Linked DNA regions of Homo sapiens. Changing the gene in region 1 together with any one later gene gives a genetic interaction. Each region holds a gene or a part of one and is shown in the gene's direction. Other genes may lie near its edges.

Region 1 (2,194 bases):
TAGTGATAAGAGCTGTAGGGATTTTGTTCTTTTGCTTAGAATCCAAGGTTCAAGGACCTTGGTTATGTAGCTCCCTGTCATGAACATCATCTGAGCCTTTCCTGCCTACTGATCATCCACCCTGCCTTGAATGCTTCTAGTGACAGAGAGCTCACTACCAGGACTACTCCCTCCTTTCATTTAGTAATCTGCCTCCTTCTTTTCTTGTCCCTGTCCTGTGTGTTAAGTCCTGGAGAAAAATCTCATCTATCCCTTTCATTTGATTCTGCTCTTTGAGGGCAGGGGTTTTTGTTTCTTTGTTTGTTTTTTTAAGTGTTGGTTTTCCAAAGCCCTTGCTCCCCTCCTCAATTGTAAACTTCAAAGCCCTACTTGGGATTGAAGGTCCTTAGGCTGGAAACAGAAGAGTCCTCCCCAACCTGTTCCCTGGCCTGGATGTGCTGTGCTGTGCCAGTATCCCCTGGAAGGTGCCAGGCATGTCTCCCCGGCTGCCAGGGGACACATCTCTATCCTTCTCCAACCCCTGCCTTCATGGCCCATGGAACAGGAGTGCCATCGCCCTGTGTGCACCTACTTCCATCAGTATTTCACCAGAGATCTGCAGGATCAAAGTGAATTCTCCAGGGATTGTGAAATGATGCGATTGTGGTCATGTTTAAAAGGGGGCAACTGTCTTCTAGAGAGTCCTGATGAAATGCTTCCAGAGGAAATGAGCTGATGGCTGGAATTTGCTTTAAAATCATTCAAGGTGGAGCAGGTGGGGAAGGGTATGGATGTGTAAGAGTTTGAAATTGTCCATCATAAAATGTGTAAAAAGCATGCTGGCCTATGTCAGCAGTCACAGCCTGGAGGCTGTGAACAGAGTGCCAGTCACTGATGCTCTTGCCTGGCACCTACAGTTGCTGGAAACCCAGAAGTTTCACGTTGAAAACAACAGGACAGTGGAATCTCTGGCCTGTCTTGAACACGTGGCAGATCTGCTAACACTGATCTTGGTTGGCTGCCGTCAGCTTAGGTTGAGTGGCGGCCTCTTCCCTTAGTTTGCCTTAGTCCCCACTATTCCCTATTGTCTTACCTCGGTCTATTTTGCTTATCAGTGGCACTCACGTGGCACTCATAGGCATTTGAGTCTATGTGTCCCTGTCCCACATCCTCTGTAAGGTGCAGAGAAGTCCATGAGCAAGATGGAGCACTTCTAGTGGGTCCAAGTCAGGGACACTATTCAGCAATCTACAGTGCACAGGGCAGTTCCCCAACAGAGAATTACCTGGTCCTGAATGTCGGATCTGGCCCCTTCCTTCCCCACTGTATAATGTGAAAACCTCTATGCTTTGGTTCCCTTGTCTGCAAAACAGGGATAATCCCAGAACTGAGTTGTCCATGTAAAGTGCTTAGAACAGGGAGTGCTTGGCTTGGGGAGTGTCACCTGCAGTCATTCATTATGCCCAGACAGGATGTTTCTTTATAGAAACGTGGAGGCCAGTTAGAACGACTCACCGCTTCTCACCACTGCCCATGTTTTGGTGTGTGTTTCAGGTCCACTTCATCAACCCGGAAACGGTGCCCAAGCCCTGCTGTGCGCCCACGCAGCTCAATGCCATCTCCGTCCTCTACTTCGATGACAGCTCCAACGTCATCCTGAAGAAATACAGAAACATGGTGGTCCGGGCCTGTGGCTGCCACTAGCTCCTCCGAGAATTCAGACCCTTTGGGGCCAAGTTTTTCTGGATCCTCCATTGCTCGCCTTGGCCAGGAACCAGCAGACCAACTGCCTTTTGTGAGACCTTCCCCTCCCTATCCCCAACTTTAAAGGTGTGAGAGTATTAGGAAACATGAGCAGCATATGGCTTTTGATCAGTTTTTCAGTGGCAGCATCCAATGAACAAGATCCTACAAGCTGTGCAGGCAAAACCTAGCAGGAAAAAAAAACAACGCATAAAGAAAAATGGCCGGGCCAGGTCATTGGCTGGGAAGTCTCAGCCATGCACGGACTCGTTTCCAGAGGTAATTATGAGCGCCTACCAGCCAGGCCACCCAGCCGTGGGAGGAAGGGGGCGTGGCAAGGGGTGGGCACATTGGTGTCTGTGCGAAAGGAAAATTGACCCGGAAGTTCCTGTAATAAATGTCACAATAAAACGAATGAATGAAAATGGTTAGGACGTTACAGATATATTTTCCTAAACAATTTATCCCCATT
Region 2 (3,500 bases), on another chromosome or scaffold:
TTTCACTGTATTGATATCTACTGACATGTTATTTCTTTAACTAGTCAAACTTACCAGGCCTATACCAGAAACAAAGATATTTGAATTGAACATATAAACAGTTCAGGAAAAGAAGATCCTTATTTTGCTTAAGTTTCTGACAATCCTTATTTAGCTTATGGATTATCTAGGGCTCTGCTATCCTAGCCATAGTCACACGTAGCTTTTTTTGAAATTTTATTATTCTATTTTTTTGAGACAGGGTCTCTCTGTGTTACCCAGGCTGGAGTGCAGTGGCACGATCATGGCTCACTGCAGCCTCGACCTCCCAGGCCCAGGCAGTCCTCCCACTTCAGCCTCCCAAGTTGCTGGGACTACAGGCACTGCCACCATGTCTGCCTGACTAATTTGTTTTTGTATTTCTTGTAGAGACAGGGTTTCGTCATGTTGCCCAGGCTGGTCTTGAACTCCTGGGCTCAAGCTGTTCTCCCGCCTCGGCCTCCCAAAGTGTTGGGGTTACAGGTGTGAGCCACTGCACTCGGCTACTTATAGCTATTTAAGTTTAAATTAAAATTAAATAAAAATTCGTTTTCTCAGCAGTAGCCGCATTTCAAGTGCTTAGTAGCTGCTTGTGGTTAGTGGCTGCCATACTGGACAGCGTGTATATAGAATAGTTCCATCATCACAGGAGGTTCTGCTAGCCATTGCTGCCCCAGGACCTTTACCTCTTCTCACTTGTTAACTCTACTAATGATTTGTGGAGTCAAAGATGGAAAGACATATATAAACTAATTTTATCACTAACTAGCTGTTCTTTTTAAAATAAAACACAATTTGGAAGGGACAGTTGAAGCTGCTGGATAAAAGGAGTTTGACTTTTCTGTAGATCTTATTTATTATTAGTGTCATCGATTCTAATTTGGTTTAGAGCCTTAGAGAGAAGAAATAATTGTAGCTAACCCTTTTTTCTGAATTTTTACTGTATGTATGCCAGGCATTGTTTATAATACCCATATCTCATTTAAGCCTCAAAACTTCCATAAGTACTATTGTTGTCACATTTTACAGGTAAAGAAACTGAGGACAGAATGATTCAGTATCTTGCTTCAGGAGGTACAGTGAATGATTATGATTTCTAATCTTACCTGGGATATGATCGAGGCAGTCCAACTCTAGAAACTCCATCTTAACTATGTTTTTTGGTCTTTCGTTCAGAAGACCCAAATCATCATTGTTCTGCTGTGCTTTACTATGCCAGTATAGACATGACTTGGCTTGTGTATTTTGTAGGTCTTTAAATAAATTTACCTTCTATTGTGCCTTTCTGGGCTATCTTCTGTCGTTCTTTTGTAAGTGTTTAAGAAAGGAAAAATAATGCTCATCTAAGCAGCACATAATTTGAAGAATAAATCTGGCATGAAAATAATGCATTTCAAAGCCAAATTAGTTTTATCTCTGCTTTTCTGCATAATTCTTGTCACTTTCCTCTTGCATTTTCTTACATAATCACAAACTGATATTAAGTTAGGAGGAAAGTTGTAGTAATTCAGTTTGTCTGTCTTACCAAAATTAGTCTATCTTCCCTGAGCTGTTAAACACTGTAAGAATAGTAATTGCAAATTCATTGGGGATTTTTAAAAAAACATTCAACATCTATTTTTGTAAATGTTTTACAAGGTCAGGGCTGTTTAAGAATCGATGAAACTATGGATCTTGTATCTTCTTATTCCCACCTTCCTATCCCAAAATGCTTATATGTCATGGTGAGTTAATGTGTACACTTAACTATCCAAATCTCATGGTCTTTCGGGTGAAATATGTCCATGGGACTGCCAAGTGCTTTCATAAACATTAAGATTTGTAATTTCCTTTACAGAGAATAGAGATACTTAGTATTAAAAGTTGCTTTAAAGATTTTCTAATCTGGTTGGTTCATATCAAGGTGAACAGTCTGAAGTCCAGAGAAGGTAACTGACATCCAAAGTTACCTGTCTAGTGATTGGAAAAGGGAAAGCCAAGATCTGGACTCCTCTTGGCATTAAGTGCCCTTTTGTTTTCAGGTTTTTTTTCTCCCTACCACGCTCACGATATTTCTGAGGCTTTGGTGTAAGCATATCCAGTGTAATTTAGGGAAGGGAGGAAAGAATTTTTTGGCCTGTTAGCAACTTTTTATACCTAACATTGTTTGAGCTAAGTAGGAATCAAATCTGACAACCAGAGAGAAATGCTTATTTTCTACATATTAAAATTGATTCTTTTTCATTCTGGAGATGGAAAAGAAAAGCCCTATATCTAATTTAATCAATGAGACCTTATTAGAAAATGGGAGATCCAAGATTGCACAAAGTTCAAATTAAAGCAGGCAACTCTGACATCTAGCAAAATATACGAATCTCCTCTTGACTCTCGAAAACAAATCACATTCCTAACCAAAAGCTAAAGTTTGGGGTATTTAGGGAGCTAGGGAGTCCTAGGGAGAGAATTGGACAGGTCTGAGGAGAAAAAGGATAATTTAAATATAAAAAAGTGGAAAAAATCGGTTTTAAGTCATAGCATGTCTTTGAGGTTGATGAAATGTTCTGCTACTTCTATATGTGGTTTTACTCTTTGGTACCAAGATTTTAGGACATACTTTGATAACAAATAGGGGCATGTCCTCTTTGCCCCAATCTGAAACCTCTTGACCCTTTATTTTCCTTTCCTGCTGTTATCTGGTAGTACAAATATTCAGTCTAATCTGTTGATCTGGCATCTGATTTGCAGCAAAAATACCTGAAGTATTTTCATCACTCTGCTGTAGCCACCTTTAAAAAGAAAAGGAAAGAGAAGAAAAAGGCAGAGCCAAATAGTATTAATGTAATTGCTTAAAATCTAAATTAAAATACTCATCTTGCTCTGCGTTATTAAGATGGTGTCAGTTTTAGAGGTGCAGGGCTAGTCCTATATGCAAAACAGTAATGTCTGTAGCTATTGCGGGCTGACTTGCAGAAATGAGCGGCTTCTCTAGAACATTCATTTGCATAAAGGAAACTATCTTTCAGAAAAGAAAAGCCAAAAGTTTCATAAGCAGTTTCACTCCAGTGACTACATCAGAGTTTTAGTAAGGTACTGGGAACTACAGTATTTGAACAGTTCAGCATCTTTATAATTTTTGTTATAAGCTAAAATCTGAACTTTAGAGAAGACTCTCTCTTGAAAATAAAGCATTAAATTCTCTAAGGTGTGAGGAAGTCCTTACCTGGTGATTTTCCCAAATCTCTTTTATGTTCTTAGTGTTTGAAAAAGGAACTTTTTTTTTTTTAATAAGAACCTAGGTTTGCAGTATAGATTGGTTTCTTAACAAATATTTTTTTTGAGACAATAAGCCTGGATCTGAAGAAAGAACATACAATTGTTAATTATGCATGTATATGCTTTTGAGTTCAGGATGTAAATGAATATTCACTAGGTCCTGTTTGGGAAGAGGAGGAGAGAGGGGTCTCTCTGTTGATTCAGAATATATTTTTATACATAAGTTTTAA

What was found. A genetic interaction does not mean that the proteins touch.
Region 2: of BMP7 (region 1) and SMAD1, changing one suppresses a phenotype caused by changing the other (phenotypic suppression), as found in Homo sapiens cells (one study listed by BioGRID).

Annotation. Positions count from the first base shown.
Region 1 is NC_000020.11:57,170,448-57,172,641, reverse strand, and holds part of BMP7 (bone morphogenetic protein 7 preproprotein), read left to right. Parts: intron 1-1,533; coding exon 1,534-1,683; 3' UTR 1,684-2,194. UniProt on the Homo sapiens protein: Growth factor of the TGF-beta superfamily that plays important role in various biological processes, including embryogenesis, hematopoiesis, neurogenesis and skeletal morphogenesis.
Region 2 is NC_000004.12:145,484,853-145,488,352, forward strand, and holds part of SMAD1 (mothers against decapentaplegic homolog 1), read left to right. Parts: intron 1-3,500. UniProt on the Homo sapiens protein: Transcriptional modulator that plays a role in various cellular processes, including embryonic development, cell differentiation, and tissue homeostasis.